Linked DNA regions of Homo sapiens: region 2 is linked to region 1. Evidence: fine-mapped QTL for protein levels in blood plasma. Region 1 holds a variant in brackets. A gene starts in the other region. All regions are shown on their forward strands. Region 1 has its middle 16 kb from the start of LIF-AS1. Region 2 holds the start of CCL21 (C-C motif chemokine ligand 21).

What was found. A credible set is the group of variants that fine-mapping cannot tell apart. PIP is the posterior inclusion probability: the model's chance that the variant is causal. Protein levels are from antibody-based Olink assays in UK Biobank. Linkage for the fine-mapping came from a reference panel and not from the study's own genotypes, which makes the PIPs less certain.
Region 2: it holds the start of CCL21, and the variant in region 1 is the best candidate, but not a certain one, in a credible set for the plasma level of the CCL21 protein (UK Biobank, PIP 0.84).

Annotation. Positions count from the first base shown.
Region 1 is chr22:30,217,395-30,229,751 of GRCh38, forward strand. No RefSeq gene overlaps it. Among named protein-coding and RNA genes, the nearest start is that of LIF-AS1, 16 kb to the right of the region's middle. RefSeq lists enhancers at 3,877-4,507, 5,488-5,989, 5,990-6,489, 9,304-10,100, 11,392-12,327. The variant C/T (reference allele first, on the strand shown) is at 6,047.
Region 2 is chr9:34,702,886-34,715,242 of GRCh38, forward strand. CCL21 (C-C motif chemokine ligand 21) reads right to left here and starts at 7,251. Exons shown (of 4, transcript NM_002989.4): 1 at 7,115-7,251; 2 at 6,892-7,012; 3 at 6,615-6,797; 4 at 6,120-6,542. The coding sequence starts at 7,181. The coding sequence ends at 6,509. It also overlaps a transcript of PHF24 not described here.

The sequences.
Region 1 (12,357 bases):
GCCACTGGACTCCAGCCTAGGTGACAGAGTGAGACTGTCTCAAAAAAATAAAAAATAAACATAAATAAAAATAAAATCCTGCACGTTTCCGCCATGCCTTTGGTTCACAAAGTGCTTTGACTCTCATTATCAGTGTGAAAAGGAAACGTGGGGGCCTCAGAGCCAGCCTGAGGTCCAGGCCTCACATCACCACTTTCTGGCTGTGTGACTATGGGCAGGTGACTTCACTCACCTCTCTGAGCCTCAATTTCCTCACCTGTAAAATGGCAACAGTAACACCATCTCCCCTCTTCTGAGCTCAGTGTCCAGCCAGCCTGTGGCCACTTTCCTCCTGGTCCTCTTCCCTCCCCACTGGCCTCCTCCTTTCTCCAGAGGGCACCACCTTTGCCCTGCGCCAGACAGCCAGGCCCTTGCCAGGCCAAGAGTTGAGTCAGACTTCAGTTCACCAACATGCTGCCGGGGTGGACGAGCCTGGACAGCCAGAGGAATCTTGTCCCGGCTCCCATACGGCAGCCAGTGCTTTGTCAGGCCCAGGGCGGGTGGGTGAGAGGGAGACAGGGAGGGGAGGAGGGGAGCCCCCGACGGGAAGGCTCTGATTCTGCCAGTGAAGGTTTTTGTTCTCTGGAATGCCAGGCCAGGGCAGTCAGCTCTGCCAACAAGAAGACTGGCCTCCAACAATAATGTTTTTCCCTGGGTTTTCTAGAATGCATCAGCTGCTTTCTAATTTGAACCATCAGGAGAAAGCTCATATGTGCTGAGTCTCAGAACAGCCGTATAAAGAAAACTGCTCCCCAGGCTTAACAGGAGCTGGCCTCTGAGGGACTTTGGCCAAGGGGCCCCTGAACAGGAGGCTGGGAGTGCCTCCCCGGGTACCTTCCCGTCCAGCCCAGGCCCTCGGTTGGCATCCTCCCCGGGGCACACCAGCCACTGTTCTCTCCACCTACACCCAGGAGGGCCGGCTGGGCGCCAGAGCCCATGCGAGGCTCTCGGCACGACCATTGTCACTGTTACTGGGGTTCACGTGGATGATCACGTGCTGCAGGCCAGCAACATGCTGAGTACTTCACATTTCATATCCATCTACCGGAGTCGCACTCCACAGAAGAGAGTGGCAAGACCCGCAGAGAGGAAAGGACCTTGCCCAAAGTCCCCCAGCACTGAAGAGCTGGGCTTCCAGCCCCAGGTCTGCCTTGACAGTTCCATAGCCAGGCCTCACCCCCTGCAAATAAAAGAATTAAGACTCACCACTTCTAGGCCAGGCACAGTGGCTCACACCTGTAATCCCAGCACTTTGGGAGGCTGAGGAGGGCGGATCACCTGAGGTCAGGAGTTCAAGACCAGCCTGGCCAAAATGGTGAAATCTTGTCTCTACTAAAAATACAAAAATTAGCCAGGTGTGGTGGCACACCTCCGTAATCCCAGCTACTCGGGAGACTGAGGCAGGAGAATCACTTGAACCTGGGAGGCAGAGGTTGCAGTGAGCCGAGATAGCACCATTGCACTCCAGCATGGGTGACAGAGAGAGACTCCGTCTCAAAAAAATAAATAAATAAAAAGACTCACCACTTTGTACCTACTAGGTGTGGCTAGAATCAAAAAATCACATAAGGCCAGGCATGGTAGTATATGCCTGTAATCCCAGCACTTTGAGAGGCTGAGGTAGGAGGATGTCTTGAGGCCAGGAGTTCAAGACCAGCCTGGGCAATGTAGCAAGACCCCCTTCTCTAAAAAATAAATAAATAAATAAAAGAAATAATAAAGTCACATAATGCGAGAGATAGCCAGGATGTGGAGAAACCAGAACCTCTGTCCACTGCTGGTGGGAATGCGGAATGGCACAGCCACTGCGGAACAGCCTGTTAGTTCCTCAAGTAATTAGACAGAGTTGTCACGTGACCCAGCAATCTCACTCCTCCATATGCACCTGAGAGAAAGGAAAACGCAGGCACACACAAAGACAGGAACATGAATGTTCATAGCAGCATTATTCATAACAGGCAAAATGTGGAAACTACCCACATGGAAAAACAAAATGTAGAATATCCATACAGTGGAATGTTATTCAGCCATAAAATGGAATGAAGTCCCACCCATGCTACAACATGCATGAACTTTGCAAACACTATGCGGGTGAAAGAAGCCAGTCCCTACAGGCTACATGTGGTAATTCCATATAGATATTCCGTGTATGAAATATCTAGGATAGGAAAATTCATAGAAACAAAGATCAGTGGTTTCTCGTGGTTGGGGGTGAGCATGGGGGGTGATAGCCAAAGGGTATAGGTTCTTTCTTTCTTTCTTTCTTTTTCTTTCTTTCTTCTTTCTTCCTTCCTTCCTCTCTCTCTTTCTTTCCCTCTCTCTCTTCTTTCTTTCTCTCTCCTTTTCTTTCTTTCTCTCTCCTTTTCTTTCTTTCTCTCTTTCCCTCTCTCTCTTTCTTCTTTCTTTCTTCCTTCCATCCTTCCTTCCTCTCTTTCTTTCCCTCTCTCTCTTTCTTTCCACCCTCTCTCTTTCTTTCTTTCCTTCCTTCCTCTTTCTTTCTCTCTTTCCCTCTCTCTCTCCTTTCTTTCTTTTTCTTTCTTTCTTTTTCTTTCTTTCTTCTTCTTTCTCTCTCTCTCTCCTTCCTCCCTCCCTTCCTTCCTTCCTTTCTTCCTTCCTTCCTTTCTCTCTCTCTCTCTGTCTGTCTGTCTGTCTCTCTCTCTCTCTCTCTTTTTTTCTTCCTTCCAGGGCCTTATTCTGTCACCCAGGCTGAGTGCAGTGGTGCAATCATAGCTCACTGCAGCCTCCACCTCCTAGCCTTAAGACATCCTCCCACCTCAGCCTCCTGAGTAGCTGGAGTCACAGGAACACACCACCATGCCAGGCTAGTTTGTTTTTTTTTTTCTTTTTGTAGAGATGGGGGTCTTGCTATGTTGCCCAGGCTGGTCTTGAACTCCTGGGCTAAAGCCATCCTCTTCCTTAGCCTCCCAAAGTGTTGGGAGTACAGGCGTGAGCACCTGGCCCAAGCTCTCTTTTTGCAGTGGTAAGAATGTTCTAAAATTGACTGTGGTTGCAAATATCAGTGAATACACTAAAAACCACTGAATTCTGCACTTTAAATGGGTGAATTTTACAGTGTGTGAATTCTCTCTCAATAAAGCTGTTGAAAAAAGAAAAGTGTGAAGGTGCAGGCTTTGAGAAACTCACAGGTCGGGGAGGATAGAGAAGTAAACGATTCCTGTCATAATACAGCAGGCACAGGCGGGGCACAGGGAGACGACCTGGTGAGCGGGGCTGGCTGAGGACAGGTGTCTGAGCTCAGGAGTGAAAATAAGTTTTCCACAAGAGGCCATGTTAGTACAGTGCTATGGGAAGAGAGGGGGACACCTCTCAGCCTAGGGAGCTTGGGTGAAGGGAGAGGCAATCCAGGAAGGCTTCCTAGAGCAGGTGCCATTGGGCTGAGTCCTGAAAAATGAGTCAGGCAAGAAAGCAAGAGGCAGAAGAAGATGTCACAGGTGAAAAGGGTGGAAGCCTACTCAGGGAATGTTCTGGGTGGAGGTTGGGGTGTGACAGGGAGGAGAATCCTGCCTGGTGTCCTGGGAAGGACAGTCCCCCGACATCTACCTCTACCCCCTGTGTTTCTTCAAGCAAGCCCTTGCCCCTCTCTGGGCCTGGGTTCTAACAAAAGCCCTTCCATCTCTGAGGCTGAGAGTCTCTGGGGCTCAGGTTGGAGTGATGAGGGCAAAGGGAGGGCAGACGGGGAATCAGGAGGAGGGGATGTCGTCGGGTGTCAGGGCCTGGAGACAGAGGGACCGAGGCTTCTATGGCCTTCGTGGCCACAGAGCCGGACCTGCTGCCCAGGGGCCACGTCCCCGCTACCCTCAGGCCTCCCCAGGAAACAGAAGTGCCTGGGGAGGAATCGAAACAGAAACACAGGTGTCTCTCCCTGGGCAGATTCCAAGAAAAAAAAAGAAAGTGGCCTCTAGAGAAGAGAACTTGTGAGCTTTGAAGGGAGGAAGGAAACCCAAGCCGCGAGAGGAAGCGAGAGAGGAGGGTAGGTGTGAGAGAGAAGCAGGTGCCCCAGGCGCAGGCCACACCGGCCACGGCCCACGGCCATGCCACCAGTCAGGCTTGTGGAACCCAACCGCAGGCAGCTTTGAGGGGGCACAAGAAGTGTGTGGAGGAGGAGCGGGCCCTGATGACGGTCCCCAGTGGTGCCACCAGCTTCCTGTCTCCTCGGCCCTGATACTCTCTTGGTCTCCCCAAGTCACCGTGGCCCTGGCACTAATGAGTCCTGAATTTGGAGTCATGGGGTCTCCTTTTGGCTTTTTGGAGAGTTCAGCCTTTTGGCCCCACCATGTGTGATTTGCAGTCTCTGAGCCTCAGTTTGCTTGTCTGTAAAATGGGGACCGCCAGTGCTGCTCTCCCTCTGCCGTCGGGGAGCACAGAGTGTGCACTGGAGGAAGACAAAGCAATGTGCATGAAAACACCTGGCCATGCAGACCTAAGGGATGGGAGGATCGTGGGCATGATGATATTAACCTCTTGTATGGTGATGGTATCCATTTCTTGGATGGTGAGGATATCAACCTCTTCGTGCAGTGTTTTCACCTTTCTGAAGCATCTTCTCATTACTTACCTCCTCTGAGCCTCACAGTGCCGAGTGCAAAAGGCCAGGTGGGTGTCCTTATACCCATTTGACAGGAGATAAAACTGAGGCTTGGAGAAGCAGCATCACGGAGCAGGCAGGAGAACCATGGGGATGTTGGGCTCCTGGGGCCTGGACATCACCACCCACCTCTTTGCTTTCCTCTGGCCCCGTTGGCTGCCAAGCTGGGGTAATTGGGGTCCTTGTGCTTTTCACACAGGTAGAGACCACCCCGACACCCCAAGCCAAACTTCCTGGGTCACATGGAGGGTGTTCAGGCTGGAGCAGGAAAGATTCACAAACACACCATCAAATATTTGAAAGCCTTTTAGGTAGAAGCTGAATTAGGCTAGTTCCGGGTGGTCCCAAGGGTAGAACAAGGACAAATGCCCTAGGAGGTTATAGGAACATGGAGAAGGGATTCAGTTCGTTATGGAAAAGAGCATTCTGAATACACTGAGCCAGTTACAGATAGAACATGTTGCCTGCAGGGTGGTGAGCTCCCCATCACTGGGGGCATTCAAGTGCAGGCCTGACAACCAGGTGGCAGAAGAGGTAGTGCAGAGGGGAGCAGATTCTATGAGGGAGGTTACCCTAGCACCGGGCTTCTCAACCTCAGCATGATCCACACTCTTGGAGGTGGGGGCTGCCCTTGGCATTGTAGGATATTCAGCCGCATCCCTGCTGTCTACAGCCAGTTGCCAGCAGCATCCCCAACTGTGACAGCCAAAAATGTTTCCAGACATTGTCAAGTGTGCCCTGGGGCAGAATTGCCCCCAGTTAAGAAGTTCTGGCTTAGATGACCTTTAAGACCCCCTGAGATCCTAGGATTCTGTCATTCTACACGAGGAACCACAAGAGTCACTGTCATTTTTTGAGCCCGTGTGGACTGCATGCTGCTAAGAGTCTTGGACACATCATGCCCTTTAATGTTGTAACTGCCTGGGTTGGTACCTCTTCTTACATAACCTCTCCCACTCCTCGGCTGTGTTTATTCCAACTCCTTACATCCCGGATGGCGTCCCTCCCACCCGCTGCAGGCCCTCCCTTCATCCTTCCCCCACCCATCCCATTCACACCCCATCTTTTATTATATTCCAGCACCTCTGTGCTCCCCTAAATAGCACCGTGTCTAGGGTCTCCATGTCCGTCTTCCCACTGGACGCTGGGCTCTTGGAGGGCCAGTTGGCTCTTGTTCAACTCTGGATCCCCACATAGTAGGGATTCACCACACATGTACTAAGGGACTGAGGACTGAGGCAGACACATCGGCTCAGGGGTATCCGTGAACCAGCCCTGGTCAGCTGGGGCTGCCTGACTCTGCAGCCCTCGAGTCCCCTGAATGCACCCCTGGGAAGCAGCCCGCTGTCCGGCTCCTCCGTGCACAGGTCTCTAACCCAGAGAGAGGCCCACAGTGTCCAC[C/T]GGAAGGACGAGGGGCAGGACGTGTGGGCAGGAGCCTCCCCTGTAGGAGGAAATGACCTGGATAATGAGGGTGACCACAGCCTCGTTCATGAAACCCCAGATACCCGACCTGGTCTCTGTCTTCAAAGCCAGAAGGAGGACGCTTTAGGGGAAACAAGGGAAGTCCCACGGGGAAATGGTCAGGCGGAGGGCGTTCCTGTTAACTGAATATTCTGATTAAGTGGGAGCCATAGCATGGGCTGGCAGGAAGCCCACCGCCCTTTGTGGGGCTGTCTTTGTGGGGTTTCTTTCGTAGAGCGATGAAGATTTGAACTATGTTGGCAGTTTCCAAGCTTTCCGGGTGTTTTTATTTTGGTTTTAGCAGAAGAAGTCCCTACTTCTTAAAGGAAAATCTCATGTAATATCCCATATGTAAAACCCCATCCCAAGGCCAGGAGTGGTGGCTCATGCCTGTAATCCCAGCACTTTGGGAGGCCAAGGCAGGTGGATCACTTGAGTCCAAGAGTTCGAGACCAGCCATGGGTAGCATGGTGAGACTCCATCTATACAAAAAGTAAATACAAAAATTAGCAGAGTGCAGTGTGTGTGTCTATAGTCCCAGCTACTCCGGAGGCTCAGGTGGGAGGATTGTCTGAGCCCAGGAGGCAGAGTTTGCTGAGATTGTGGCACTGCACTCCAGCCTGGGTGACAGAGCAATTCTCTGTCCCAAAGAACAATAAAAAAAAAACCCTTCCCAAAGTGGCTCTGAGTCACCTGCCAGCCCCACAGAGATCCTCAGAGCCTGGTTAGAAACTCCCAAGGTTTCTCTGAGGTCCTCCTGGCTGCCGTGATCTGCGATTCTGTAACTGACCCCACCTAATGGTGAGGCGCATCCCAGCTTTACAGGATGCCCTCAGGGCTCTGCAAGGTTGCCGGTGAGAGCTGTGACTCGGGCTATCCTCGAACATGCTGAGATGGAAAATTCTGGTCATCCGAGTATTCTGTTTATTTCTGTGGGTCCCTTGGTAAACAGGAATTTACAGTACCCAGCAAAGATAAACTTATGGAACTCATTACCCCAGAAAGGGTTACAGACCAGGGACATGAGCACACCCGGTCAGACCCTGCGGTGTTTGGATGACAGAGCCCTGAATGGAGACACCCCAGGTCTGGTCCCAGCCTGACAGCAGTGGCCACAGCCTCAGGAGAGCCACTGTCACAAGGCCGGAGCTCTGAAAAGACTCACAAGCATTTTCTCATCGCTTTGAGGTTTACCATGCATTCCTTTCCTTTTTTTACTGATTGAGGAACTGAGGCTCAGAGAGGTGGAGTCCCTTGCAAGTGGCTGAAGCCAGAGTTCTCAGCTTCACTATCAGGGGCTCCCATGCCATCCACTGAGTGACCAGAGCAAAGCTGGGCTTGCCCTTTTAACCTGGAAACTGGGGCTTTTCGATGGGAGCCCACCTTCCCGTGAACATGCGTGGGTTGAGTGACTGCCCTCAGGTCAGGATTGAATTAGACTCTGATAATAGAAAGATGGGCCAGGCACAGTGGCTCATGCCTATAACCCCCAGCCCTTGGAAGGCCAAGGCAAGAGGATCGCTTGAGACTAGGAGTTTGAGACCAGCCTGGGCAACAGAGCGAGACCCTGTCTCTAAAATAATTAGCCAGGCATGTGGCACATGCCTGTAGTCCCGATTGCTGGGGAAGCTGAGATGGGAGGATTGCTTGAGCCCAGGAGTTTGAGATTATAGTGAGCTATGATCATTGTACCACTGCACTCCAGCCTGGGTGACAGAGTAAGACTCTATCTCAAAAAGAAAAGAAAAATGGATAAAGACATAGCCCTTAGGACAAAGGGCCAAGAGTTAACTTTACCAGGCAGCTGGAGAGGGGGCAAAAGGAGGTTTTGCTGAGAAGGAAGTGTCCGGGCTGATCTGGAGGCTGCGTAATCAAGTAACAGATGGAGGCAGCAGGGAACAGCATTTCCTCATAGGGAACAGCCTGAGCTAAGTGGAAGAGGCATGAGGAAACATCCCAAAAGATTCCTCCAGCTAACTGCCAAGAGTACTGGTGGGTCATTACAGAATGATGAAGAAGGGAGGGCTGGTGTCCCAGGATCAATATCCCAGAGAAGGAATAAGGGTTCTCCTTCCAGAGCCCGATTTCTAGGTTTCGGGAGCCCTGAGGCTGGCCACGGGAAACGTTTCTGATATTTGTGAGAATCTCTGAATCAGTTCTTGTTGGAGCTGGCAGAGCCCTTTAGGGGTTGTATTAGTTTCCTGTGGTTGCCATAATAAATTACCACAAACTGGGTGGCTTGAAATAACAGACATTTATTCACTCACAGTTCTGGAGGCCAGAAGTCTGAAATCAAGGTGCCAGCAGGGCCACACCCATTTCAAGGCTGTAGGGAAGAATCCTTGCCTGCTTCTTCTAGGTGGTTTCTGGAGGGTGGCTCCAGGTGCCCCGGAGCTTATGGCTGCCTCACCCCAGCCTCTGTCTCTGTCCTCACCTGGCCTTCTCCCCTGCGTGCCTCGAGCCTCTCTCCCTTTCTCTTGTAAGGACACTTGTCATTGTCTTATAAGGACACTTCTGTGGGTTGAGGACCTACATAGATATTCCAGGATGATCTCATCTAGAGATCCTTAACTTAGTTACATCTACAAAGACCCTTTTTCCAAATAAGGTCACATTCACGGGTTCCAGGAGGTAGGTGTATCTTGGAGGCTGGGGAGGGGACATCATTGAACCTACCCGGGGATCAGCCGTTCAACAACCTTATTCTGCCGTTGAGGATGCTGAGGCTCAGGTGGACAAAGGCTCTTGCCCAAAGCCAGCCAGTCAGTGACACAGGGATCCTCAGGTGCCCCAAGAGTCTTGTGCCAACACCACCATTGTCATCGTAGCACAATACGTGCATTGTTTCATACAGGCCAGACATTGTTCTGTGCCGAACCTCTCTCAACTCACAGTAAGCCTGCTCCTCAGAGGAGGAAGACAGGCACAGAGAGCTCTAGGAACTTGCCCAAGGTCACACAGTCAATTTGTGGGTTTATGGTGTCCCCCTGGAAACCCATGTGTCCAGAACAGCCTTGACACATAGGAGTCGGTATATGTTTGTGAGCGCCAGCGTGGCTCTGAGGCCTGGCGGGGAAGAACGGAAGTCTATAGTCCTGCTGGAGAGGCGGACACTCACAGGATCACTTCCTAGACTGTCGGGGAGAGGCCAGCCTGGGAGTGCCTGGGGGATTTTCCCAAGAAAGAGACCTGAGTTGAGTCACATCTAAGGAAGAATAAAACCAGTGAGAGGGAATGCCTGGGATGGGAAGGACTTCCCAGGAAAGCTGGAATGAGCATAGCATGTCCCAGGGACAAAATCAGTTCAGTTTTGCTGGAGCAGAAAGCAGGAAGCCAGGGGAAAATGAGGCTGAGGTTCAAACTTGGTCCTGAAGGTACTAGGGAGCCACGGTTGGTTTAAGCAGGAGCTATGTCAGCCGCTTTGTGTTTTAGGAAGATTGCTCTGGGAGGCCAGGGGTAGGTGAGGCCTCTGCAGGGACCCCTCTGAAGGTGCACCCTGAGTTTATCTCCAACCCCTTGCTTGGCAGGTGTGGGATGAAGCTGCAATTTAGGGCAGGAGGAGCAGTGCCTGGTCAACTCCCCTTCTGTTCCAGAACCCCAAGTCACAGGGGAAACCTGGGGGGATGGAGGAGAAAGGTCTGCAGTCACAATCTAGCCAGCGCCTGCTAGGCAGGTGGCGGCCTGTGAGAAAGCTGCTGAAGATGTTAAAGGAGGCCTGGCGCAGTGGCTCACACCTGTAATCCCAGCACTTTTGGAGGCCAAGGCGGGCAGATCACTTGAGGCCAGGAGTTCGAGACCAGCCTGGCCAACATGGTGAAACGCCATCTCTACTTTAATAAAAAATACAAAAATTAGCCTGGCATGATGGTGCATGCCTGTAGTCCCAGCTACTCGTGAGGCTGAGGCAAGAGAATCACTTGAATCTGGGAGGTGGAGGCTGCAGTGAGCGGAGATAGCACCACTGCCCTCCAGCCTGGGAGACAGAGTGAGATTCTGTCTCAAAAAAAAAAGAAAAAAAGAAAAAAGATGTTAAAGGAGGTGGTTGGGTCAGCTTTTCCCAGTGTCCATGGAATGTGGTCCTGAAAGAGCTGCTGGCAAAGAATCCACAGACATGCTGCATACTCTGTCCCCACCTGACTGCCCTTAAGGCTCTGATAAGTCCTGCAACAAACACTTCTTTTTCATTTTGTTTAACCCACTCTTTCCCAAACTTTTCTGATGCAAAGTCAGGTTTTCTTCTTTGAATGCTGGTGCACTGCCTTGTGAATGGAGAGCAACACAACTCACTTTGGGCAATGCTAGTACAGAGGAAGTACTTTGGGCAATGCTAGTATAGACCAGGAGTGAGGAGGCTTGGGTAGGGAGGTATGTTCTTTGCGAGAGCACCCACCACTTCTCTGGGCCTCCATTTCCTCCTTGCTGCCTCCTATTCAATAGTTATCTTATGTATTACAGTAACCACATAGTGTCTCTGTAGAAGGGATCTTGTGTTTCCACCCTGGGGTTCAGTACCTGGCACAGAGCCAGATGCTGAATGAATACATGAATGAAAGTCTAAAATAAGAACTGCCCGGCCTGGGCAACATAGTGAGACCCCATCTCTACAAATTAAAAAAAAAAAATAGCTGTGTGATACCCGCCTGTGATCTCAGCTACTGGGGAGGCTAAGGCAGAAGGATTGCTTGAGCCTGGAAGATCAAGACTGCAGTGAGTTGTGGCTGGGTGTGGTGGCTCATGCCCGTAATCTCAGCACTTTAGGGGGGCGAAGTGGGCAAATCACTTGAGGTCGGAAGTTTGAGACCAGCCTGGCCAACATGGTGAAACCTCATCTCTACTAAAGATACAAAATTAGCTGGGCGTGTTGGCACATGCCTGTAATCCCAGCTACTTGGGAAGCTGAGGCAGGAGAACTGCTTGAACCTGGGAGGTGGAGGTTGCAGTGAGCCGAAATCGAGCCACTGCATTCCAGCCTGGGCGCCAGGAGTGAGACTCCATCTCAAAAAAAAAAAAAGGAGAGAGACTGCAGTGAGTTGTGATGGTGCCACTGTATTCCAGCCTGGGCATCAGAGTAAGATCCTGCTCCAAAAAAAAAAAAAACAGAACTGCCTCTCCAGTAGAGCTATTATGGAATTAAGTCAACGAATGCCGATGAGATGAGATGAGTTTTATGTTAGTAAATGCCAAAGCCCTATTCACCTGTAAGGGATGACTTTTTAAATATGTGCTGTACTTCAAGGCGCCTTACTCCCCATGTTCCCCGGTGCCTAAAATTCCAGCATTAGTCACTCGTTTGCCGTAGGGCACTGAAGGCCCCAATTAAAATGTAAATGTGTGACCTAGTGGTGTTGCCATGGAGCCACCAGCACCCCTGACAGGGCCTCATGTCATCACTGTTGGCAATTTGTTCACCAGATTAGTCCAGCAGAAAATTGCTGTCGATGAAGGGACTCATCTACAGAGAACCAGAGAACTCCTATGCAGAAGAGAGAAAGTGGAGCAGGAAATGATGCTGGCCGGCATTCGGGGGGGCCTCAGGGCCCATGCATTGACCGCTGTCACCCCACCACCCTCCACTACACGCCTGGGCCGTCACCTACCTCCAAGGGCACCCGGGTCAGGGGCTTAGAGGGGCCCGCCAAGGCCATTCCCTAAGGCTGTGAGGGAAACTCTGGCCCATTTTGCCAAGGGCAACCAGCCATCCAGGGGGTCCGAGCTACACCCTGCAGGAAGCCCACGCAGCACAGCCCTCCAGCTGGGGTCAGGTCCGCCTGGCCAGCTGCGGGTTCGGGACAGGACGCCCCTTCTGGGAACACAGGAAGGAAGGGAGGGCGCTGCTGACCACTGTCAGGATGAGTCCCTTCCTCCCTGCCCCTTTCCTCACCCCTTACCTCCATGGCCCCACCCTCTTCCCCACCAGGTGGCAGCCCCTCCGAGGACCAGAGGGTGAGATGGGAGGCCCCTATCCAAGGGGTCTTACCCTAAAGGGTTTGGGAGAAACGCAGTCTCTTGGCCAGAGCCAACCTATTCCTACCATAAGCAGCCCTGGAAGCCCTAAGGAGGCAGCAGATGGGGAAACTGAGGCTCCTCCATCAGGTCTCTGCTCAAATGTCACTTTCCCGCCCACCCATCTAAATCAGCCCCTCCCCAGGCTCTGCGATAGTGTCATCTTCCAGGGCATTCTGTCACCCGCTGATACCATCCTGTGTACATAAGGACTGAGACCTGCATCCAGCCGTCATCCAGAACATAGT
Region 2 (12,357 bases), not on the chromosome of region 1:
GCCCAAGACTGATGGCAAAGGATAGAAACGTTGATGACTTTAACAAAACAGCATTATTTTGTCCCCAGATACAAGGAGAAGTAATGCCTGGATGTGAGAAAGAAAAAGAACTTCACAAAGGATACCAGCTGAAGCTTAAGACATATTTCACAGGTAAGCGATTATAGCTGGGAAACAAATTAATGTCACCTTTCATAGACAACAAGTGACAGACCCCACCCCTCTGACTCCCACTAGGTCATTTGGCATGGTAGAGGATACCTAGTGTGTCATTCTGGTAGCCCCATAATTTAAATTTTTTTTTTTTGAGACGGAGTCTTGCTCTGTTGCCCAGGCTGGAGCGCAATGGTGTGACCTCGGCTCACAGCAACCTCCTGGGTTCAAGCAATTCTCCTGCCTCAGCCTCCCGAATAGCTGGGATTACAAGCACCCACCACCATGCCTGGCTAATTTCTGTATTTTTAGTACAGATGGAGTTTCACCATGTTGGCCAGGCTGGTTTCGAACACCTGACCTCAGGTGATCCACCCGCCTCGGCCTCTCAAAGTGCTGGGATTACAGGCATGAGCCACTGCCCCCAGCCCATTATTTTTAATTTTTAAAAGAAAGGTATCAAAAGAAAGAACCCGACAGTTGTTGGTAATCACAGCCCTCTAAAAGGATATCATTAATAAGTAGGAATTGTGGCCAGCCAAAGTGTGGCCCAAGTATCCTGAAGGGAGGGGTTCTTAAGAAATCTGATTGCTTACTCTTTAAGAGTTTTTTTGTAGGCTACTTTGCCTATGGAGTAACCATTCTTTTATTCCTCTACTTTCTTAATAAACTTGCTTTCACTTAAAAAAAAGTTTCTTGTAATAAAATGTAGAGACAGGGCCTTGCCATGTTGTTCAGTCTGATCTCAAACTCTTGGGCTTAAGCCGTTCTCCTACCTCTGCCTCCCAAAGAGCTGAGATTACAGGTGTGTGCCACCGCACCTGGCCGACTGCTTACTTTGGAATTGGTTTCAGGTTTATAGGACTAACTGAGGCTTGTTTGTTTTTCACTGCAGCCTCGAACTCCTGAGTTCAAGAGATCCTCCCACCTCAGCCTCCCAAAGTGCTGGGATTATAGGCATGAGCCACGGTTCCTGGCCTGAGATCTATTAGCTCTAATTTTTTGTTTTTTAAAGGTGGGGTATTGCTCCACTATGATCAGCTATGGTGTGATCATAGCTCACTGCAGCCTCGAACTCCTAGGCAATCAAGTGATCCTCCCACCTCAGCCTCCAAGTCGCTAGGACAATAGGCCTGTGCCACCGTGCCTGGCTAATTCTTTCTTTTTTTTTTGTAGAGACAGGGGTCTTGCTTCGTTGCCCAGGCTGGTCTCAAACTCCTGGCTTCAAGCCATCTGCCCACCTCAGCCTCCCAAAGTGCTGGGATTATAGGCGTGAGCTGCCATGCCCAGCTAGCTCTAATTCTTTACTAGTCCCACCTATCCTCTATATCTGTATCAAAGAAGCCCTTAAAATATTGACAAGGAAGGAGTGAACCGGGAGAAGCAGGAGGAGATTCTGAGGCAACACTGACAAGTGGGAGTCAGCCCATGATTTCATTAGTGTGTGTGTGTGTGTGTGTATGTTATCATTTTGTGGAAGAGATAGTGGTGAAATTATTTAAAAACATGGTATGGCCAGGCACAGTGGCTCACACCTGTAATCCCAGCACTTTGGGAGGCCAAGGTGGGAGGATCCCTTGAGCTCAGGAGTTTTAAGACCAGCCTGGGCAACATAGTGAGACCTCGTCTCTACAAAAAATGAACAAAATTAGCTGGGTGTGGTGGTGTGTGCCTGTAGTCCTACCTACTCAGGAGGCTGAGGTGGGAGGATTGCTTGAGCCCAGGAGGTTGAGGTTGCAGTGAGCTGAGATTGCGCCACTCACTTCAGCCTGGGTGACAGAGCAAGACCCTATCTCAAAAAAGGAGCAAATAAAAACAACAAAAATACATGGTATTAGTAATTTTCTGGATGACACTGAGGAGGACTCATTGTTAGAACATAGTGATAACTCACTTTTAAAGCAATAAATTGCTTCTGTGGTTCTGTGATAAAGAAAAGTCAGGATTCCAGGGATTAAAATGAGTTTTCATGCTTAAGGAATGAAGATTTTGTAGATTTTAGAGATAATTCATCTTTAGGATTTTTTTTTTTTTACATCTCTAGTAGAAGTCATTGTTTCCCTGTTGGATACTGGCATATGAATATTCAGTAAATATGAATTTTTACTGTATTCACGAATAAGACATTAGAAATCCTTCATATTTATAATTTGATTTTATGCTTTGTATCTATTTTTATTGAAATATTTACGTGTCTCAGCAGTAGGCTTTTGGAAAGTTACCTTTATCTCCTCTCCCATTTGGGCTCTTGGGGGTTTATGCCTTTATTTTATTTTTAAAATTAATTTATTTACTTTGAGACAGGGTCTCTCACTTTTTAGCCCAGGCTATATGGCTCCCAGGCTCAAGTGATCCTCCCACCTCAGCCTCCTGAGTAGCTGGGACCATAGGCACATGCCACTACACCAGCTACTTTTTTTTATTTTTTGTACAGACGAGGTCTCATTGTGTTGCCCAGGTTGGTCTCAAACTCCTGAGCTGAAGTGAGCGTCTTGGCCTCCCAAAGTGTTGGGATTACAGGCGTAAGCCACTGCGCCTGGCCTTGCTTTATGCCTTTACACGCATACATGCACCAAAAAAATTTACTGTAGTTTTAGTCGGGGCTCAGTGAGAAGTGAAAATAAAGGCATGTAATTAATTTTCCATCCCTACCCTGAACTCCGATTTGTTTTTAAATTTAATGGTGTTGATCTTTAATGATTTACGTTTTATGGTTTTATGACTTGTTTAAGAAACTCTTTTTGGCCAAGCAGAGTGGCTCATGGCTGTAATCCCAGCACTTTGGGAGGCTGAGGCGGGTGGAGCGCTTGAGCCCAGGAGTTCAAGACCAGCTTGGGCAATATAGTGAGACCTGGTCTCCATTTTATTTTAAAAAAAAGTTATTTTATACCTCGAAGTTATAACCACATTCACCTATATTTTCTTCTACGTATATCTTAAACATTATGTTTTGAATCCATCTCATATGATGAAGAATTTGAAAGGCAATGTCAAGATAGAGGTATTTTAAAAAGGGAAGGGCATTAGAACCTTTAAGAAAAACAAAAAGATGAGTGACGAAGGAAAAGTGCACTACTTTTGTCTGCAGAGAACATTTATATAGTCAAAATAATGTAATATGTGATAATACATATTATGTAATAGTAATCCACAATAATATAAACTGTAATTATGATCTAAATATGGTAATATAATCATGATCTAAATATTATGGTATGACTATATTTAGAGGATGCAGTGACAGGAGAGGAGAGTTGGCAAGAGAGTTAGATCTTCACTTTTTATAGTAGGAAGTCATCTGGTAATGTTTAAAATAGGTAAATCAAGAAACAGAGGTATAGGCAAAGTACTTAGACATATGGCACTAAGAAATAGCATAGGAGTTAAAGTTGTAGGAAATTATGTTATTCAGAATAAACCTTTTGGTACTTTTGGATATATTTTTTAACTGTGAGTGTGTATTATGTGATATTTTTTGAATTATGCATCAAGAGAATAAGAGAGAAAAGAGAAAGAACAGGACAATGTTGTCAAAGATGAAGGCAGACAAGGAGAGTGGCCAGTCATGATCTGATGGAATAAATAATATATTGCATGCTTACTCAGAGCAGGGCTTGAGGCAAATACCAGGCATGCAGGTGTGGCAGGAGAATTTAGTGAAATAGAGAGTTTTGTTTTTTCTGCCTATGTTTTTCTTTTCACTATAGAGTAGGCAAGAGTTTTGGCAGGGCTGGGAGTGATGTCCTGATGTCAAAGGGAGCCTGACGTCAAAGGCCTTTTGTAAATGTCTTACACCAGGGGAAAATGCCGGGCATAGAGGCTCACACCTGTAATCCCAGCAACTTGGAGCCTGAGGCAGGAGGATCCCTTGAGCCCAGGAGTTTGAGGTTACAGTGAGCTATGATCCTACCTTTGCACTCCAGCCTGGACTACAAAGCAAGCCTTAAAAAAAAAAAAAAGTAAACTTGTAAACTTGGGGAAGAGGTTATGCCCTGGAGGGGCTGAGGAGAGGGAGACAATTGTTTAGGACTGCGAAGGGATTAGTGTGTACATCCAGCCAGAGTGGGCACTGGGCTCTAATTTCTGTCTGTGATGGGGCAAGTGACAGGACTGTTGAGTAGATGGCTTCGGGGGTATCTGGGGAGGTCAAGTCCAAGCCCAGAGGCTGTCATATCTGAATTCTTATGTCTCAAATGTGGAGTCTAGGACTTGAAGAGATATACCTGCTGGAACCACAGGGGTCAGAACACTCACTGGCGAGACTGATGTCCAATGATAGGATGGTGTAGGAGGCAGGTAGGAGGCCTCCCTTGGGCCTTGAGGTTTCTGTGACCTTTGCATAACCCTTGGCAGGTGGGATCCCACAAGAGTGCCTGATGTTGAATTTCTCATCAGCACTCTAGTGCAGTAGCTTGGAGTAGGAATTAAGTTCATTTAAGGAACATTTCAAAAGTAGTATTTCTTGCATATCTGAGTTTATAGATTAATTTCACACCTGCTGCCCTAGGACAGGCAGGGGAGAGGCCCTGTCTTCACCTGCTGCAAGAGGAGCAGACAAGCCAATACTTGAGGATGTTAGGATAGGTGGTAAGTGCTGTGGCATACTCAGGCTCCTACAGAAGGAAAAGTTGATGGAGCAGCCACTTCTAGCTTCTGAGGTTCCTACCTTTCTTCTTCTTCTTCTCCTCCTTTTTTTTTCTTTTCCTGAAATGGAGTCTTGCTCTTGTCGCCCAGACTGGAGTGCAATGGCACAATCGATCTCACCTCACTGCAACCTCCGCCTCCTGGGTTCAAGTGATTCTCCTTCCTCAGCCTCCCGAGTAGCTGGGATTACAGGCGCCCGCCACAATGCCCGGCTAATTTTTGTATTTTTAGTAGAGACGGGGTTTCACCATGTTGGCCAGGCTGGTCAGGAACTCCTGACCTCATGATCCGCCTGCCTTGGCCTCCCAAAGTGCTGGGATTACAGGCCTGAGCCACCGCGCCCGGCCTTGAGGTTCCTACCTTTCTTGCCCTTCCCCAGGATCTGTTCCCTTCTTTCTCACATTGTCTGGCCCAATCTGATGGCTTCTACTCTCCCCGCCTGGAGGTGATTTGGGGAATAGAAGGGTCTTCACTCTGGGGAGGAAGAGGTAGAGGAGAGCCATCTGAGGCCTTCCAGGAGAGGAGACTGATTCACACCTGAATCCTGGGGTTCTGAAAACCTGCCCCAGGAGACTTATTCCTTGACTTCAAAGGGTTAAATGGGCTAAAGTAGTCTGGATCCCAGCCAGGAAAGAAAGGAGGAAAAAAAAAGGGAGGAGGTTTTTCCATCTGGAAGGAGGCTGAGTGAGTCCAGGGGCCCAGATAGGAATAGAAGGAGAGCACAACAGCCCCATTAAACAAAGAGGAGAGGTCAAGGCCCGAGCTTCACTGAATAGGGCTGAAGCAAGTCCCCTCGGGTCTTTGCCTCCCAGGGGCTCTCTCAGGGCTGGAACTGTGCTAGGGCAGGTTTCAATATAACTTGTGTTTGTCTGTGTTATAGATGGGCCCAAGCCACAGCTTCCCTCCTAGGGACCCTTCCAAAGAACCACTTGGAGGGTCTCATTGAATAGTTCCCAGGGAAAAGAGAGGAAGCCTCTGGGATATCTGGGGAAAGGTCTGAAGGTCATGGAAAAGATCCGAAGGTCACCCCTGGAGTTAGTGCAGGACAGAATCAGGGTCTCAGAGGTCTGCAGAGCTGTTGGGGGTGTGTGCTCCATGTCCACCACCTCTCCATTGGCAGGATGCCTCAGAAGACTGGGTCCTACCCTGTCCTTCAGCCTCCCTTTAACTGCTCAGGGGTGCAGGCACCTGAGAGGCAAGGAAACTCTTGGGGTAGATGAGAACATAGCATTTTTCAGCCTGAGCTTTCGGCTCAGAGTGTGTGACCCCACCCTGTAGGAACCTTGGCATCTCGGTGGACATAAACACATGGGAACAGGTACTTGGGTGGGAAGACAGAACAGCTTTTTATTCAGTTAGGTATAAATCATATTTACAAGGAAGAGGTGGGGTGTACTGGGGAGCCGTATCAGGTCCAGGGTCCTGATGATTCTCCTTCAAGGGGACAGTCCTGCTGCCTCCTCTCATGCTCCCTGGGAGACTCTCCCTCCTCGGTCTCTCTGGACCTGGCCTGCTGTGGGCAGCTCAGCCATGCAGGGTAGAGCTGGGAATGCAGATGGGGTGGTTAAAGCAGGAGAAAGAGTGTGGCAAGGCCAGCATGGGGTGGCTGCTCCAGGGCCCCTGAGCATAGCCTCCTTCTTGCATCTTGGGTTCAGGCTTCAAGCGCTGGTGAGGCTGGTGGGGTCTCCAGGGCTCCAGGCTGCTCACTGGGCTATGGCCCTTTAGGGGTCTGTGACCGCTCAGTCCTGTGAGGGCAGAAGAGGGGTGTGAGGGGCTGACTGAGGCTCCCCTTTACCCACATCCCTCAGATTCCTCACCTCTTGCAGCCTTTGGAGCCCTTTCCTTTCTTGCCAGTCTTGGAGGCCCCCCTGTCCTTCCTGCAGCCCTGGGCTGGTTTCTGTGGGGATGGTGTCTTGTCCAGATGCTGCATCAGCTGCTGCACCCAGAGCTCCTTTGGGTCTGCACATAGCTCTGCCTGAGAGCGCTTGCGGGGCAAGAACCTGCGGGTGGGGGCTAGTAAGCCTTCTTAGTCTTGCCCACCATGCCCTCCCCACCCCGTCACCAGCCAGTACCCACCCCTTTGTGTCCACTCACAGGATAGCTGGGATGGAGCAGCCTAAGCTTGGTTCCTGCTTCCGGTAGCTGCGGACAACCTTGGCGGGAATCTTCCTTTGGCTGTACTTGAGGCAACAGTCCTGAGCCCCTCCATCACTGCCTGCAGGGTGGGATTCACAGGGAGCCAGGGGCTGCTGGCAAGCTCCTATCCAGGCCTCTTGATCCCCTTAGCCCCATGCAAGGCCCCTCCCTGCCTTGGTACCTTGGGTCCTGGGGATGCCAAAGGCCAGAACCAGGATAAGGAGGCTCAGAGCCAGTGACTGAGCCATGTCTGTGGTAGAGGGTGAGTAAGAGGCCAGAGCTGAGGGTGAGGTGGGCAGCTGCAAGTTGGGGGTCTGTGCGTGGGCTGGGATTGGCCTGCTATTTATGTAGCTAGACACTTTCACTTCCCTTAACTTATCCCCACTCCTTTTCCTTCCTGAAAGCTGGATTTGCTGGCACCCAGCCCCACTTATCTCAAACTAAGTGGACAGTCCTCAGCTGCCAAATTTTATGTCCTCATTAGTTGAATATGTCTGGGCCTGAGCCTTCCTTCTATTCCCAGCTACTGCTTTCATGCAGGCCTCACTGCCTCTCCCCTGGAACACCATGACTGTCTCCTCACTACGCTCCAGGATCCATACCCTTCCCCTCCTTCCAGCAAATCTGATTATTAAATTGTAAGAGTTCTTTTTTTTTTTTTTTTTTTTGAGACAGGGTCTAACTCTGTCACCCAGGCTGGAGTGCAGTGGTTGATCTTGGCTCACTGAAATCTCCGCCTCCTGGGCTCGAGTGATCCTCCTACCTCAACCTCCCCAGGAGCTGGGACTACAGGCAAGCACCACTGCGCCTGGCTGATTTTTCTATTTTTTTTTTGTAGAGACGAGGTTTCACGATGTCTAGCCCAGGCTAGTCTTGAGCTCCTGGGCTCAAATGATCTGCCTGCCTCAGCCTCTTGAGGAGCTGGGACCACAGGCACATGCCACTACGTCCGGCTACTGTTTTCATTTTTCATTTTTATTTTTTCTAGAGATGAGGTCTTGCTATGTTGCCCAGTCTGGTCTTGAACTCCTGGGCTCAAGCGATCCTCCTGCCTTGGCCACCCAAAGTGCTGGAATTATAGGTATGAGCGACTGCACCTGGTCTGTAGCATAACCATTTTGATTCCCCTTTGCTTTCCTTTTCTATATATTTTGTAGTTATTTTCCTAATGGATACCTTGGTGATTATAATTAACATTCTAAACTGATAACAACCTAGTTTGAATAATACCAACTTAGTTTCAATGGTATATAAACATTTTGCTCGTATACATTTTAGTCCCTTCTTTATATTGTTATTGTCACAGATTACATCTTTATACATTGTGTTCCCATTGACATAGATTTATAATTATTGTTTAATGCATTTTCCTTTTAAATTATATAGAAAAAAGTGGGGCTACAAACTAAAAATACAATACTAGCTTTTATCTTTTTTTTTTTTTTTGACACAGGGTCTCGCTTTGTCACCCAGGCTGGAGTGCGGTGGCACAATCTCAGCTCACAGCAGCCTCGACCTCCTGGGCTCAAGTGATCCTTCCACCTCAGTCTCCTGAGTAGTGGGGCCACCATGCCTGGCTAATTTTTGTATTTTTTGTAGACACGAGGTCTCACTATGTTGCCCAGGCTAGTCTCGAACGCCTGACCTCAAGCAATTCACCCGCCTTGGCCTCCCAAAGTAATGGGATTACAAGTGTGAACCAGCATACCTGGCAATGTTGTTACTTTTTTTTTTTTTTTTTTGAGACAGAGTCTCACTCTTTCGCCCAGGCTGGAGTGCAGTGGCGTGATCTTGGCTCACTGCAACCTCCACCCTCCGGGTTCAAGCCATTCTCCTGCCTCAGCCTCCCGAGTAACTGGGATTATGGGCACCTGTCACCACATCCAGCTAATTTTTCTATTTTTTGTAGAGATGGGGTTTCACCATGTTGGCCTGGTTGGTCTCAAACTCCTGACCTCAAATGATCCGCTCACCTTGGCCTCCCAAAGTGCTGGGATTACAGACATGAGCCACTGCGCCCAGCCTGCTATGTTGTTATGTTTATCAGAGATCTTTGTTTCTTTGTGTGGCTGTGAGTTATTATTTTTTGTCCTTTTGTTTCATTCTGAAGGTCTTCCTTTAGCATTTGTTTGTTTGTTTGTTTGTTTTTTCTTTCTCCCGTTAGCTTTTCTTGTGGGCAGGTCTACTATTAATGAACTTCCTAAGTTTTGTTTATCTGGAAATGTCTTATTTCTCCTTAATTCTTGCAGCATAGTTTTGCTGGATATATAGAATTCTTGTTTGACTTTTTTTTTTCTTCAGTCTTTAAATATATCCCCCATTGTCTTTTGGCCTCCCATGGTTTCTGAAATCAGCTGGTAATCTTATTGAGAATCTCTTGTACATAATGAGTTACTTCTCTCTTGCTGCTTTTAAAATCTTTGGGTTTCAACAATTTGACTATAATTTGTCTTGGTGTGGATCTCTGAGTTTATCCTTCTTAGAGTTTGTGAACTTCTTGGGTATGTATATTCATGCTTTTCATCAGATTTCAGATGTTTTGTCATTATTTCTTCAATTTTTTTAATGCCCTGTTCCCTCTCTTCTCCTCCTGAGACTCCTGTGATGAGGTACATTTGATGGTATCCCTGAGGCTCGTTTATTTTTCTTCTCATACTTGATAATTTTAATTGTCTTATCATCAAGAATACTGATCCTTTTTTTTCTGCTTAAATTAGTTGTTGATTGCCCCTAGTGAATTGTACATTTCAGTTATTGTATTTTTGCTTCCAGAATTTCTGCTTGAGTCCTTTTTTTCTTTTTACTAATTTCCATCTCTTTATTGATAGTTTCATTTTGTTCATACACCATTTTTCAGATTTCCCTTAACTCTTTGCCCATGGTTTCCTTCAGCTCTTTGAGCATATTTAAGACAGTTATTTTTTTTTTCCAAAAGGGCCATTGTTTCCCAATTTAATTTGAGGTCATAATAAAACAAGCAACAAAGCAGTATTTGAGATTTCAGCTTCTCACCCTTATCATCAAACCTCCCATCATCAATATTTATTGAGCATTTACAGTAAGACAGTTAAAGTCTTCATCTACTATGTCCAATATCTGGGCTTCCTCAGGGATAGTCTCTGTCAAATTCCTTTCTTCCTGTGAATGGGCCATACTTTCCTATTTCTTTGTATTAGTAATTTTTTGTTGATAACTGGGCATTCTGAATATTACAGTGTGGTATCTCTAGAAATTCAATTTTTTCACTCCTTAGGGATTGCTGATATACACTTGTTGAGAACTCTGCCATCAATTTGTGGTGACTTTTTCAAACGGTTTTTTGCAAAGTGTGTATTCTTTGTTTTGTGGGGTTACTGAAATTTCTGTTTATGACCTGACAAAGGGTTCTCTTCCTTCCCCGCAAAAAGATTCTGTCCCTTTAAATCTTCTGATATATGTGGCTCAGGAAGATCCTGAAGCCCAAGAGGGCTGAAACAAAGCAAGCCTGTCCCTTAGGGAACCAGAAGACAAACCCAAATGCAAAACCCCTCATTTTTGGAGGACAGGGTTCCCCCTGCCCACTCAGTGACCACCCAGCTACTTCAGGAATGTGGGCTGCTATCCCCACTGTGTTGGTTGGTAGCTAGTGCATGCATTATGCTCTCTTCTGAAAGACCAGCAACCTCTCCCTTCATCAAGTACCACCCCCCCTGCTTGTTATAAGTGTCCAATCGGGCTCCAGACTTCTGAAAGAGTCGATTCCAATTGCTCTTTCCACCTCAATAGTTGCTTTGGTGGAGGGACCAACCCCTATAACTTCTTACTCTGCCATTTTGTATGATGTTTTTCTGTAGTTTAATTTTTAACATTTTAAAATCTTTTATCCATTTGGAGTTTATTATGGTATATGATGTGTGAGGGTTATTGGGTCATAACTTAGAATCTATATTTAATACTGGATTGGGACCTTAGAGTTGTAATCCTCACGTCAGAGCTGGAGAATCCATCTGGTTTCCAGAGTGCTAAACTCAGCAGCAAGCTCCTTACATCTTGTTTTTTGAAGGATGGCTTATGACAGGATAGGGAAACCATAGGAAGAGGAGGAAATGAGTGTCAGGAGAGATGTAGTCAGGACAGCCATGGCCAGAGACAGAAATATTGGGTTGCTCTTGGGGAAGGATGGGATGCAGAAGGCATGGGGTTGAAGATGGAGGTACTGTTGGGAGGGGGATAAAGAGGTGGTGTTTCATTCTAAGGTCCACAGAGTAGAGGGGCTGGAATTTGGTGGCCTAGAGGAGAAATAATTGAGCTCTTGAGTCTGAGGTTTTCAGACTCAAGAGACCTTAAGGCTGAGACCTTAAGCAGGGCAGGGAGTGACTCTGTTGGCAAGAAGCTGGTGTTCCTGGAACAAGACTAGGCAAAAACAAGGAGATAAGATTTCTTGGATCTTTTACCTGGTCTAGAGGCAGATCCTGGAACCAGAAAGTTTTAAATTCCCAGCTCCCTGGTTTCCCCACCTGCCTAATGGGAGTGACTAAGAAAGTAGTGAGCAGCCTGTCTCTGAGGAATTCTCAGACAGATAGAATAGCATGGGCTTGGGAGGGGGCATGCAGATAATTCCGAAGTCATATTATATTAGTTTGCTTCCAAACTTGGCTGCACTTCAGAATCACCTGGGTGACTTTTTAAAAACAGAATTAGAAGCAACACGCCAGACCGCCTTAAATAGAATCTCAGAATAGAGCCAACAAATGTGTATTTTTACCAAGTTCTGCAGGTAATTCTAAGCATTTGGTGGGGTGGGGCTGGGAGAGCCACTTGGGCCTATTCTGCTCCCCATCCCACACTCTAGATTGACACAGAGCCGGTGAAAGGGAACAAAGTTGGTCTGGGGAAAGGAAAGCTGGAGTGATGCCCCCTCTACCTCCCCTGGAGGAGGAGACTTTCTCGCCTGGCACAGATTGTAGAAAAAAAGGAGAGATGGCAGGGAAGAGGAGGGGGCTGTACCTTTTTCTTTCCTAAAAGCTTAGGCTTGCTTTCTCTCCAAGATACCTGCCTGTCTCCCTTACCCTTATTCATGCCATGAAAGAAGCTTCTTGTTGTGTCAGATGGTGTGCACAACCCCCTAGGTCCCATCTCTGCCTGGTCTTCCTAGATGCAGGAATCTAGGTTGATTAGGCATCAACCCTAAGCCCCTGCCTGTGAACTTGAGCCTGCAGTGGTAGAGCAGTCTCAGGGAGATGTTACATCCTGGAGATATTGAGGTCTGTCTGCTTGGTGCTGGAGCTTAGAATCAAGGTTAGGAGCCCTAAGGGAAATGAAGGAAGCAGTAGGGGCTTTTCTGGAGGTGGAAACCTGGCTGGACAAAATCCAGCGCAGAAAACAGCTGCCCTGAGAGTGAGGATGGGATAGCGAGTCCCTACCCCGTCTCCAGTCTGTGAGTGG